Homo sapiens: one gene and its partners. The protein of the gene in region 3 interacts with the protein of the main gene of each other region in a pairwise test. Each region holds a gene or a part of one and is shown on either strand. Other genes may lie near its edges.

Evidence for each region. The genes of interacting proteins can lie anywhere in the genome.
Region 1: the proteins of APBB2 (region 3) and ABHD17C interact in binary tests that used the Homo sapiens proteins (3 or more experiments, as listed by UniProt).
Region 2: the proteins of APBB2 (region 3) and SASS6 interact in binary tests that used the Homo sapiens proteins (3 or more experiments, as listed by UniProt).
Region 4: the proteins of APBB2 (region 3) and POLR3F interact in binary tests that used the Homo sapiens proteins (3 or more experiments, as listed by UniProt).

The regions. Positions count from the first base shown.
Region 1 is NC_000015.10:80,698,310-80,701,809, reverse strand, and holds part of ABHD17C (alpha/beta hydrolase domain-containing protein 17C), read right to left. Parts: intron 1-3,500. UniProt on the Homo sapiens protein: Hydrolyzes fatty acids from S-acylated cysteine residues in proteins. Has depalmitoylating activity towards NRAS and DLG4/PSD95.
Region 2 is NC_000001.11:100,105,431-100,108,930, forward strand, and holds part of SASS6 (spindle assembly abnormal protein 6 homolog), read right to left. Parts: intron 2,575-3,500; coding exon 2,380-2,574; intron 2,288-2,379; coding exon 2,198-2,287; intron 2,124-2,197; coding exon 1,944-2,123; intron 1,564-1,943; coding exon 1,482-1,563; intron 474-1,481; coding exon 337-473; intron 1-336.
Region 3 is NC_000004.12:41,012,043-41,015,542, forward strand, and holds part of APBB2 (amyloid beta precursor protein binding family B member 2), read right to left. Parts: intron 2,357-3,500; coding exon 1,541-2,356; intron 1-1,540. UniProt on the Homo sapiens protein: Plays a role in the maintenance of lens transparency, and may also play a role in muscle cell strength. Involved in hippocampal neurite branching and neuromuscular junction formation, as a result plays a role in spatial memory functioning.
Region 4 is NC_000020.11:18,480,890-18,484,389, reverse strand, and holds part of POLR3F (DNA-directed RNA polymerase III subunit RPC6), read right to left. Parts: intron 2,772-3,500; coding exon 2,580-2,771; intron 910-2,579; coding exon 832-909; 3' UTR 1-831. UniProt on the Homo sapiens protein: DNA-dependent RNA polymerase catalyzes the transcription of DNA into RNA using the four ribonucleoside triphosphates as substrates.

The sequences.
Region 1 (3,500 bases), on a different chromosome or scaffold from region 3:
AGTTACATTCTTCCTGTTCACATACTGGCTGCCTTGAATTGCAAGCCAACATTCTATTTCCTTTGTAGAAATATCATTGTGCTTTCCCCTTATGTCAAACAGTATTCATAACATTTGTTTTTTTTTTTTTTGAGATGGAGTCTCGCTCTGTCGCCCAGGCTGGAGTGCAGTGGCATAATCTTGGCTCACTGCAACCTCTGCCTCCCGGGTTCAAGCCATTCTCATGCCTCGGCCTCTTGAGTAGGTGGGATTATAGGTGCCTGCCACCACGACCAGCTAATTTGTGTATTTTTAGTAGAGATGGGGTTTCACCATGTTGGCCAGGCTAGTCTCAAACTCCTGACCTCAAATGATCCGCCCGTCTCAGCCTCCCAAAGTGCTGGGATTACAGCTGTGAGCCACCGCGGCCGACATATTTCTGTTTTTCTGTTCCCTAATCAGTCAAACTCAAGCAGAAACTCTAAGCTTTCTTCCCTTAGTGGCATCATAGTATTCCCTCTGAGAACACTGAGAACAAAGAAGTTAGGTTATTAACTTCAACATGCCCAGGAAAGTAACTTGCTACTGGAGGAGAATTCCACCCTGAGACTGCTGGCTGTGAACACCATTCACAACCAACAGAAGGTGTTTTTCAAGGGTCCCACGACCTGAGAGGATGCCACTACAGCTTTGCTGTGACATGGATTTTCCAATTATGGATCCTGTGAATCACCGACACAAAAGTTATAAAACAGCAAATCATAGTTACGTATTCAAAATGCCTCTGAAATCTATCCATCCTTTTACAACAAAAAGAAACAGCTTGGGATTAACGATACTTCAAGAGTACGTAGTACACGGTCTGGCACAAGCAGAGCATAAATAAATGTGTGTTTAACAGTTTGGGGTTTTTTGTTTGTTTTGTTTTTTGAGACAGGATCTCACTCTGTTGCCCAGGCTAGAGAGCAGTGGCGCAATCACAGCTCACTGCAGTCTCAAACTTTGGGGCTCAGACGATCCTCCCACCTCAGCCTCCTGGGTAGCTGGAACTACAGGCACACACCACCACACCTGGCTACTTTTAAAAATTTTTTGTAGAGATGGGGGTCCCAACTATGTTGCCCAGGCTGGTCTTGAACTCCTGGGCTCAAGTGATCCTCCTGCCTAGGCCTCCCAAATTGCTGGGTTTACAGGTATGAGCCGCCACACCCAGCCTATGTTTAATGGTTTACTGGTCAAATGAAGGAATAAATGAAATATTAAGTCTTTTGTAATTTGCCTTTTGTACTAAAGGCACTGAAGAGTCTTATTTATCTTCTTCCCTCTGCATCTGCTTTCTCTGACTGTATCAACGTTTCTCTGCCCACATTACCAAACGCCTCTCTCCTCCACAGCTTTTGTCACCAGCATCAAAAAGAAGCATCAAAGACGACTTCTGTGGATGGCATCAGCAGACACCTAAGTTACAAATGTCCAAACAGGAGAGTCCCACTCTCCTGTTCCTCCAGATTAAAATATTTCAGCTAAAATACTCTGCCTCCTTTACACCTCATTCTTCGGGCTATTTGCTTGTTTGGGTTTATAGTTTCAAATCAGTCTGATTCACTGTCTCTTGAGTCATGGTGCCACTTGTGCACACACAGTCTAAAACTGTTCAGCCCTAAGAGGATCCCCTGGAAGGATGTGTGTTGAGGAGGCTGAATCTGCCTACTCCCACCTTAACCAATAGGCAGCCATTCCTGCACAGATTAATCACTTTACTTCCCCAACTCAAGTGACAACAATACACTCCAATAAGGTGACCCTGATTTTCAGTGTCTTTTCCACAGATATGTCTAAGTGATTTCAATTCATTCCCTCACTTGTTTGTATTCACAACATACTTATATTTCTTACCAGTAATGCAAACGTAAAACAAGTTTTGATCTTGGGGCTCTCCATCATGCTCAATGAGCTCTCCTCATTGTTCATGCCACTCTTCCTGGCTCCTTCAAACCCTGCCTCTCCGCTACACTCTTTTCAGTAACTTTTCAAGAGTTTAAAATAATCATCTATTGGCCAAACGGCAACAACCACCTTTCTTACCAAATCTACTTCCTCCTGAAACCCTTACTCTGGATTACGTGCCCACCTTAATACTCATCATCTGGGGGGATTCACTGTCTTTATCCATGCATGAGGGGTCTGCACACTGGTAGTATTTACATCTGTTTCAAGGGCTGGACAGCTCACTCTAGCATGCGCAGGAGCTGGCACAAATAGGTAATGGATAAAAGATGTAGAGACATACAAAGGATGGGTTAGTATTGTTCTTCTCTTCAATACAGACATTTCAGTGTCACAAGAACACCAATACAATGAATACAAAGTGGATGAGGCCTCAAGCCAATACATCTGGCCCTTTTTTTTTTGTCTATGGTTGTACCCATGGATATTAAACCCCGAAGATAAAATAAGATCCAAGTACTTGTAAGAGTCCAACTTAGGAAAAATTAACTTTACCCCACTTATTTATGGGGCGCCCATTATGTGCAATTCGTTCAACAAATACCAATGACTACCTATTATTTTAAGACATTTTGCCAACTGTCAGGAATAGAGAAGACATAGTGTCCCTGCCCTCAGAGATCTTCCAATTTAGTGGAGATACAGTTAAATAACAGATACAGCAACACTGTGATAACTCAAGCAAAGGGGCTGAGTACCAGGTGCACAGGGAACACAAAGGGTCTCCTAATCCAATTAAGATCCAGTCAGGATCCATTGTTCCTAGCACAGGAGAAGGGCAGATACAAAAGACGATGTGAGCAGAAGAGTGGGGCAAAGTCCTGAGTGTGGGGCTTTGGGGCCTGCAGGGCACTGCACCTTACAGTCCTCCTGGGGGAATAATCTAAGTACAGAGATGAAGATGACTCAGAACAAGGCAAGCTCTCCAATCAGTGTCCTGGGGAGTGTGGTTAACTAGGAGGGCAGGAAAGATAAAGATTCCCAAAGAAGACATGGGGGATGGCTGGTGGAAAACAGAGTCTGACCCAGTAACAGAAGAATGGACACATGGGATGGAAGGCATTCCTGCCATGGCACTGACATGAATTAAGCTGTAAAAGAAGAGAGAATAGCATAAGAACTTGCTCCAGGCAAGTAAGAGCAGAAGAACCATACTGAACAGCAAGAGGAAAGTGGTTGAGGGGCTGATTGGCTTCAGAATTAGGTAACTCTTATGTCAGCAGAATAACCAAGACACACAAATGCACCTCCTGAAGAATCTGATAAATATGCTTACCGTGGCAATGGTGCCCTCGCAAGAGTACTAAACTGGTAGTCAAGAGACCTACTGCTGATTTGCCGCCAGTCTATCCTCCTGTCAGATGAGCTGGGTGAACGTGTGCAGTGTCCATACATGAGTTGGGAAATAAATTTAGCAATTCACAACCATCTTTTTTTTTCTTTTTTATAAAAGTGAAATAGGCCAGGCGCGGTGGCTCACGCCTGTAATCCCAGCACTTTGGGAGTCCCAGGTG
Region 2 (3,500 bases), on a different chromosome or scaffold from region 3:
GCAGGAGAATGGTGTGAACCCGGGAGGCGGAGCTTGCAGTGAGCCGAGATCGCGCCACTGCACTCCAGCCTGAGCGACAGAGCGAGACTCCATCTCAAAAAAAAAACAAAACAAAACAAAAAAAAGAAATGTGCTCTTGAAACTCAGCCTCTGTTCAGAGCAAGTGTGCCTTTGTTCCACTTCCAGGGGCAACTTAAACTCTATTTCAGTGCAATTGTAGGACTCCACTTTGTATTGGTATCAGCACCTTAAATCATGGAAACTTCCTAACAATCTGGAAATACTTTTGTTTCAGGAAATTCACTAAGATCACTCACATCTTGTTTTAAATCTTACCACATTCAGGTTAGGAGAAATTCCACTTCTGATTGTGTTGCTGCTGGAATGTGCAGGCGGAGTAGTAGAAGGTCCCAATACATCTTGCTTTCTCACTAGCTGATTTTCATTTAGTTCTTTATTTAACCACGTGATTACTTAAATAAAAGAACAAGAAGCAAGGTAAAGAATATTGACTGTTTATTTTTCTAATCATCTTAAACATTTAAAAATTATATTAAGATTTTTAAATTATAAGTTTTTACAACTACCTGACATCACAGGAGAGCAATATAGGTTCACCTAAATTTTTGTCATTAAAGTTTCTTATTTTAGAAGCTGCCACATAGGACTCCTTATTGTATTACTTTCCGAAGCACATATTTCTGCTAGTCAAGCAACTCTTTGAAAGATTTCACTTCTAGAATATCTTACAGTTTACTTAAAATTCACAATCTTATGTATGATACCCAGTAGTATAAACTGAGAAAATGTTAGTTAAAATCTTATTTTTATGTTTTGTTTTCAAACAATTCATATTGTTATTATTAGGTAAACACAGCTATTAAAAAAAGGAATAATGAAGAATTTAAACAATAAATTACAGTCAACATTTTCAACAGTTTTAATTGTGGGTTACTGACCTATGGGATATGGTTTTCTTTATAAAGATGATAACTCTTTTACTGGGCAGATGATATAAATTTATTATAGAAAAGGCATTAAGACAGTATATTTAAAGCAGAAATTACTTATATATTGGCCAATGTCTACTTTTATGAATTCGAATAAAATTTTCAGGTTAAGAATAAAACTACAGCCGAGCACGATGGCTAACACCTGTAAACCTAAACGCAGCAATCTGGGAGGCCAAGGCGGGTGGATCACTTGAGCTCAGGAGTTCAAGACCAGCCTGGGCAACATGATAAAATCTCGTCTCTACAAAAAAAACCCACAAAATTAGCTGAGTGTGGTGGTGCACACCTTAGTCCCAGCTACTTGGGGGGCTGAGGCGGGAGGATAACTTGAACCAAAGTGGTGGAGGCTGCAGTGAGCTGAGATCATGCCACTGCACTCCAGCCTCGGTGACAGAGTGAGACCGTGTCTCAAAAAAATAAAAGAATAAAACTACAAACCTCATTTACATTAACACGTAACATACTTACACTTTTCATTATTTTTTAGAAGTTGTTTGCTTTCTTCAAGTTTTTTAACTGTAGCTTCTAATTGTTCTTGTAATTTGCATACCTGAAATATATCAATCATCACAATAAGTCAAGCAAAATAAAGGTTAAATAAAAACTGAAGAATGTATTATTATTAACTAAATAATTACATAAATGGTTACTACTACTATTATTAAATGAGAATAAAGGAATTAGCTCAATTATGTAATAAAATATTTACATGTGTATACAAACATAGACATACATGAGCAATCAAGGTATCTGAATCATGATAACTAACTTTCCAAACTGAAACAGGTTATTACCATCTACTCAATCTAGTCATGTTCTTTTGTTAAAAAAAAAAACAAGACCAAAGCCATTTGTTAATGTAACAAAGCATAAATTTTTAAAACGAGGAAAAAATTTAGTTACAACATAAAAATTTAAAATATTAACTACCTCTTGCTCTTTAATTCGAAGAGACTGTCCAACATCTTGTAATTCCTTTTGTTCCTTTTGTAATTTTTCCTCCTTCTCAGCCAAGAGTTTTTCTTGCTGAATAGTAACTGTATTCTTCAATTTCAACTTACCCATTAAAGTTTTCAGATCCCCTTGTAACTTCTTGATAATTTCATTTGCCTATAAAAGAGCTTCATATGTATATTTCTATGTAATTTAATGAAATACTAGTCTATAAAATTTTTAAAACAAACCTTCAGAAGTTCTGCAGATAATGATTTTATTGTAGCTTCAAGCTTTCCTAGTTGTACTTGATTTTTCTCACCATTTTCTTCTAAAACCACCTGATATATTTTTTAAAAACATGAATAATTAGGGCATTTGTGTTTACTTATAAATATGATTATCAATTTCTGAGAAAAATTTAAAAGTAGACCTTTTGTTCCTGGATTGTATCAAATGCCTCTTTTGTTCTTAAAACAAGCTGGTCCTTATCCTTGATTTCCTGTTCTAAAACTGCCACTTTTGTTTGTAGCTGATTAACGTGCTTTTCTTTCTCGTGGCATTCAACATCTAGTGTAGAATTCTCTCTTCGCAAAGAGAGGACTTCTTGCTTAGTCCGCTGTAGCTCCTAGAATGGGAAAAGAAAGAAATTAAGCATTATGAAAAAAGGAAGCTGCCTCATCTGGTTATTTATAATTAAGATGTCTAACATATTAAAAAAAAGTCTTTAATAATTTTAAAGTTTTAGTACAGATTTTTTTTTAAAAGCATAAATGTCTTTCTAATGGTATAGTAGCATATATCTGGAATATAATTGTAAAATATTCTACTATCTGATTCAATCATATCAAGGGAAAATAATTCTAATTTATGAATAAATTACAGTAACTTTAAAACTTTTAACAATAATTTTCTGATGTCTCCACAACTGATTCCAAGGGTAACCACGGGTGAGAGCCGCCACAATGTAGACTTAACATTTTTCTTTGTTGCTTACATGTACAGATTGTTTTTTAAAGGTTGATACTCTGCAGTTTATAATCTACCTTCTTCACGTATTACAAATATCTTTCTATGTCAATAAATGTTAACATTTCCAGATCTCTCTGTTCACTCTTTCAAGCAAAATAAACAATAATTGTTCATTAAAAATAGATTTTTAAAAAATCTACAATAGATCTCTTCCCAATCAGCTAATATCAACCCAAATGCTGCTGGTATATGAAAGCCCAGGATACAATATTCCTAGATAGTTTTAGTTCTTAACCAAAGTTTCCAAAAATAATTATACAGTATTGTGACTATAGTGGTTTTAGGAGCACAAACTTTAGTATCAAACAAAATTCAAATCCTGGCTCTTCTACTGTGTGATCTTGGTAATTACTGAAACTCCCTAAATTAAATCTCAGTTCCCTCATTTGTAAAACAGAAATAACAAATACTTAATAAATTATTTCATTTAACCTTCATAAAAATCCTTACGTAAATTGCCTAGCATTTTGGCTGGCACACAGTAAAACTCAATAAATGGTAGCAATTGTTATTTTTAGGACA
Region 3 (3,500 bases):
TGGAGGAGGAGAGATGGGGTCTTACTGGTCTTGAACTTGTGGGCTCAGGTGATCCTCTTGCCTCAGCCTCCCAAAGTGCTGGGATTACAGGCATGAGCCACTGTGCCTGAACAAAACTTTAGGTTAGTTTAAAACTTAACTACAACAGAACCGGCTATACCAGGAAGAGCAGCAGAAAGGGTGCCATGACCAGAGGGAGACAGCAAGGTGTCAGTAAACGCCAAACACAGGAAGTAGAGCTTGGCTGAAAGATGTGCAAGGAGTCTTTCATGTATTAATAGATTCAAACTCCAGCAGGTGACAATGTCTATCAGCTTCAGGATATGAATTCTCTAAATGGGTAAAAAGGATAGAGAGCTGTGAACTCAGGGACATTACTGAACATAATTATGATTCCAATAATGTGCAGGGCCAGACAGTTATGAGATGAAATGGCCTCATCTCAACCTCCCTACTGCCACATTCCACAGTAGTATGCATCATTGAAAGTACTGGGATTTTTAAAGGGCACTTCAAAAACGCTACTTTTTTTTTCTTCTTAAACAAGTTAATGTCTTAACTCCTCTTTTCCTTATCTTTAGTCCTTGTAATTTATCTACCTTATCGATTGTAAAAATGTGATTTCCTTCCCTGGTGGTTCTATCTATTTTCTTTGTTATATCTATATTAACACAGCCCTGGGACCCACTAGGGGAACTGCTGGACTACTTTTAAAAAATTAGCCTTTCTGAGTGCTTGTTTACGCTGAATTCAGATACAATAAGGTTCTCCACATTTTTCAATCTTAGAATCAGTATAGTGGGAGCTATAAGAAAATGATATTTAAAGTAGCTGACTTTTAGGATCCTGTTCATTTCTGTCACCATTTTAACACCTCCGACAAATCCAAAATATTACAAATATAGACAAAAGTCCAGAAAGACTGGTCTCAATTAGACTAGTTAAAAGTCTAAACTTCTGAATATATTTTTCAAGAAATACGATTTTCCCACTTTTAAATATTACTTAAGGCTAATAAAACACTCCTCAGTAAATGTCAAAAAGAGAAATGCCTTTAATGAACAGATGGCTAATGTTTTAACTTTTTATGCGCTTCACCATAAATAAGTTATTTTGAGGACTTTAAAATAGTTCTCTTAATTGGGTTATATCCTTCCCCCAACAACTTTGTTTCTTTTATTATTTTGCTTACCAAAACCCAGTATTTCTAGATAGCATATAGAAATGATCTACCTATGCACTGGAAGTGTAATTTCTAAATATATGATATTTTACTGTACTTAACACCAAGGATCTGTTTATTTTACAAAAATGCTTCCCAGAACAAACAACTTTATGCACGATCCAAAATGAAACTGACCTAAAATATGGTTGAGGAATGCAGTAATATTTTGCAAATAAATTGCCCAATTTTACCGCAAGAGGCTCACGTTCCTCTCTGCATAATGGACATTTTTGGTCAGTCTAGAGATTTACTCCAATAGTTGAAAAGATAAAAAAAAAAAAGTGCCAGCTGAGGCTACGCCTTCCCCAGGGGTACCTGTTTCATCCGGGGAGCTGGGTGAGGCACTGTCTTGGGACAACGTTGTCCAGCTGGACTCCTCATCGCTCGGTGCCAGGTTCTGGATCCGGTGCAGTGCACAGTCGGTTTTGGCCCCTGTTTTCGGATGATCCTTCTTGGTTTCTGGGCTGGATGACACTGTGGCTACTTGGCCGTCTTCAGGGCTGGACTGGGGTCTGTTTGGTTTCTGCAGCAGCAAATCGCCATTCCCAATGATGGTGGAGGCCTGGCCCTGGACTGGCTGGGATTTCTCTTCCGCAGTCCCATGGTGATTGCCTCGGTTCTGCTCTAGTTCTCTGGCTGAGGTTTCCAGATCTGCATAGTAATTTAGGAAGCTCTTAGTTCTCCTGGGCTGGGAGGGTAAAATCTCACAGCTCGAGGAATCCTGTGGGTGGGGCTCTTTACCCTCTAACTTCTCAGAAGTTATGTTGATGACTGCAGTGGGGCTCAGGTTTTTGTTGGGGTCCTGCTGCCCTTGCTCTGCAGCCTTACGGAGCTGGTTCTCCCCATTTTTCACCAGCTTGATGTTGGCAGAGCCATTTCCCAGCAGGGGCTGTGCAGCTGGATCCGAGAGGCCCATGGCCGCCTGGATGTTAGTTAGTGCATATTTTTTCCTGCATTTGGGAGGTGTGCTGTTCTTGGTTTCTGTGTGTTTTATTTCAGCGTTCAACAGTTCATTGTGGGAGGATCGGAGGTTAAGGGTGTTTGGTGGTGTGGCTGGGCTGTTCCGATTTGTGACGTCTGTAGTTCCGCTGCTGGCCATAAACACTGCCAAGGTGTCAACACCTGAGTCAGCTGGGGAAAAAAAAAGTCATTAGACACCTGCCATGATTAAACTACTTAGTATACAGTGTGAGTAAATATTTTTATATAGAAAACTAAAAGAAGAAATGCTTCCACTGCACATACATTCTCATAGAATGGACCCATTTTCCTCTTTATTTCACCATTTGTTCCTATATTAAACAGGAGCAAATAAAGGGCTTAACGTGGATAACCAAAAGCCAATTTATAGAAAAGCTAAGAAGTCTGAGGACCTAAATTTTACTTAAAATAAAAAAGCATTTCTCTTTGAATTCACATAAAAGCATTTTCTTCTGGTGGCTGGTCTTCATTTTTTACAAGCTTGAAAAATCATCCCCTTTCCAAATATTCCCACTACATTTTTATTCTTTGGTTCCTTCAGGCAACAACAAAAAATTGCTCAAGATTCCTCTGGGGCTTCAGCTTTCTTAATTAACCTGAAAGGTCATTGTTCAATGATGCTCCATACATCCAAGGTAATTTTTCTCAACCACGTTTAGAAACTGTGTTCTGAATGCCTGGAAAACTAACCCTCCATTAGAGTTTGCTAATGTCTTGGTGAACATTTTTGACCTGGGCTTACTGTTTGTACTAAACTGAAATTTTGAAGAAATGGCTTAATTTCTGAAGAACACGTACACACGCACACAAAACTATTACTGTAGCATTGAGCCCTTGGCTACAGACAACATGTTAGAGCTCCCAGAGGAGTCTGAATATATTCCACTGAATTAAAATACAGACTCAGCTGTTTGCAGTCATCACATGCCTCTGCAGAACTCCTAGGAAACTATCTGGCAACCGCATTTATCTCAAATATTGTTTGCGCCGTTAGTGATTTATTCTATATGTCTCTCGCTGGGAAGAAAGAAAGGTTTCTTAGACTAGAAGGGAATAAAATTCATCAGCAAGAATTCCTAAGGTTTCAGATTTCTCAATCTATGAGGAGTGACTTCTTTCTTATCTGATCCTTTTGCCCTCCACAGAGACTTTGGTGATCTCTACCTCAGCAGCAGATGAACCAAAGCACAGCTCCTGAAATTCCTGAAATTATATTCTGACAATTCCCTCTTCCTCCCCCAGGCAAAACAGGGATCTTTGCAGGAGAGAAGGGCAATAATTTCCTTGTTTGGGA
Region 4 (3,500 bases), on a different chromosome or scaffold from region 3:
TGGAAATGAGATTTCAACATTAGAATTCTGGGGGCACACAAACATTCAGTCTACTGCAGACATTAAATAAGAATCTAGGGTAAATTCTAACAAAGAATACATTTGAGTTAAAGAGTGAAACATAAGACTTTAAGAAAGAAGGAACAGTGAAAATATTCTTTAGAATGAAAATGATAGTATTTATGTACTGAAAATATGTCCTTGACAGTAGTCATTGGGTTTGAAGTAAGTATGGTAGCATAATCTCCTAAAAGAACATTTCTGATACAAAAAGGAATTAATATTGTGCGGAAAAGGCATGTTCCACTCTCCCCCAGTCATACCCCAAGTTTGCACTCTTTGCTATTCCTGCCTTTAACCCCTTCTAATTTCTTTTCAATGAAACCACTGAGAAAGTAGGAAACAGAAAATGGTGGTAGTGAACCAGATATAAAAAAAAACTTCCAATGAAGAACTTAATAAATAACTTTAAAAAGAACATTTTTATACTCTAGCCATTATCATAGTACTTGGTAAATACGGGTATGTTGGCATCTTTTTCCTTGACCCATCAGAAGTCTTGAAAGATGTGGTCCTCCGGAGTTTCAAAGTGTTTTATTTATTGAAGAATGAATTTCACTACTAACCTTATTTCTTTCATATTCTACTGGCTATTTTACCAATATAAATTTAGTCTTCATAAATAAAAAAAATATGTTTTCATAGCAGCAAGTCTACGTCCATTATTGTGAAGTTTGCTTTCAAGGAGATTTCGTGTTCCATCATGAATTAAATTATCTGCTCCCTAAGTAACTTCATTTGCAAAATGTCAATAAAGTTCATAGCTCTCTATTAAAATTCGAGCCACTCTGTCATGTAAATACAGTTAGATGGTGAAATCTCACCACCTTCGTGGCAGTCATCAAAAACCTTTAAAAAAGAAAAAAAAATTATATTCAAATTAAAGTTTTAAAATATCTAAGACCCAACCACTTATTTAAAGCAAGATTAAAAACAAAACTTTCAAACTGAAAGGGACTAGGACTGTACTTAAGAACATATTATAGCCGGACGCAGTGGCTCACACCTGTAATCCCAGCACTTTGGGAGGCCGAGGTGGGTGGTCAAGACCATCCTGGCTAACATGGTGAAACCCCGTCTCTACTAAGAATACAAAAATTAGCTGAGCGTGGTGGCAGGCACCTGTAATCCCAGCTACTCGGGAGGCTGAGGCAGGAGAATTGCTTGAACCTGGGAGGCAGAGGTTGTAGTGAGCCAAGATCGTGCCACTGCACTCCAGCCTGGGCGACAGCAAGACTCCATCTCGGGGGGCGAGGGGGGAGCGGGAAGAACATACTATAATAGGGCCTGCTTTGTGATCATCAAGTTAGGAGTAGTAGAGAGGCTTTTTTTACTGTGGCATTAAGATGACCATGCTCACCTGTCTGCTGGGCAAAAGGCTATCACCAGGTAACACAGGAATATGGGCAGGGAGACCTATACATATGAATGACTTAATTTTGATTAACCAAATGTTTCATGTTTAGCTACCTTTTTGTGAAGGGTGCAAAACAGAATTCCTAATATGTTAGCCTTTTGTCTAGGGACTGAAACCAAGGCATAGAGAGCTTAGGCATATAGACAAAGGTTGGTATAATGAAATAAAACACACACAGGCTCATCTATAAATGCCATGAGGACTGGGACAGTGTCTCTTGCTTTCTCTTGTATCCTTAGTGCCTAGAGCATAGAGTTGGCACTTACAATATTTGGGAATGAATGAAGGAGGAGTGCTGGGGCATGCTGCAGGGGAAAGACATGATCTCTGGGTTTGAATCCCGGTTACTTCTAAGCTGTATGCCCCTATGTCTTCCTAAGCCTAAGCTCCCTCACTTTTAAGGGGAAATAACACCACTAGCTTCAAGAATGTAAGGAGGATTAAATGAGACCGCCTATGGAAATCATCAAGGACATATCTGGCCCAAGGTAGGTTCTCAACAAATCTCATTTTCTGCCCTATTTAGGTGAAATGATTAGCCCTCATCAAAAAGTGTCCATTTCAAGGCCAAGAGCAGAAAACGTAAATATCCTTAATGTGGTTGTTCCAAGAAAGAATGTAAAGCAGGGGGCCAGGTACAGGGGCACATGCCTGTAATCTCAGCACTTTGGGAGGCTGAGGGGATCACCTGAGGTCAGGAGTTCGAGACCAGCCTGGCCAACATGGTGAAACCCCGTCTCCACTAAAAATAAAAAAAATTAGCTGGGCATGGTGGTGGGTGCCTATAATCTCAGGTACTCAGGTGGCTGAGGCAGGAGAGCTGCTTGAACCCGGGAGTTGGAGGTTGCAATGAGTCAAGATTGTGCCACTGCACTCCAGCCTCGGTGATAGAGTGAGACTCCGTCTCAAAAAAAAAAAAAAAAAAAAAAGTAAAGGAATGATGTGTTCATTAAAGGTCTGTTCATCAAGGTTTCATGGAGGTTTGAATAGCTCTTGGTCAACCCTAAGAGTCTGAGAAAACTGGGCTGTGCTTGCTCTGTTTCTTAATGTGGCACTTGCACCCGTGGGCAGTCAAGTGTAAAGTGAAGCCACTTTAACTCACCGGGCAGAGTCCACAGGGTGCCCGGACCAAACCTGTGGGAGGGATGATTGGATTGACTGCCCTGTACAGTTTCATGTGTCCATCTACACTGCCAACTGTGCCTTCTTTTGCAGCAATAATCGTCATCTCCACTTTTCCATCATAAATGAGTGTATTCAGGATGGTTTCAATGTCTTCCATGGATAACTCTACCTAAAAAAGGGATACATCAGAAAGGACACAAGTAGGATAGGGAGACATCCACTTGGAGGGTGTTAAAAACAGTAAAGGGTTGCTGGGCGCAGTGGCTCACGCCTGTAATCCCAGCACTTTGGGAAGCCGAGGCAGGTGGATCACTTGAGGTCAGGAGTTCGAGACCAGCCTGGCCAACATGGCAAAACCCTGTCTCTACTAAAAATACAATTAGCTGGGTATGGTGGCAGGCACTTGTAATCCCACCTACTCGGGAGGCTGAGGCAGGAGAATGGCTTGAACCCGGGAGACGGAAGTTGCAGTGAGCTGAGATCGCACTACTGTACTCCAGCCTGGGCAACAAGAGCCAAACTCCATCTCAAATAAATAAATAAAACAGTAAAGGGTCATAATTCTGCTGTGAAATGGGAGAAACATTATGCTGGGGTGGAGTAATTTAAAGCACAAAGAGGAGGAACAATAGGCCAAGTTAGCACAAACCACTGAGGTGCCAGGGACAGAACTCTAAGCTCATGCTGAGTTTGACACTTTCTGGTATCTTTACTTCCTAAGTAAAATCGAGAAATCTTATAAAAAATAACATTTCTTTAGCAGGAATTTATTGGAGATTTATAAAATGCTTGAGCAGAAAGGCACTTTAGACATCAAATAGTCCAAGTTCCTAGTTTTTATGAGAAATCTGAGGCCCAGGAAATTAAAGTGACATGTCCAAAATGGCCACTTTGATTT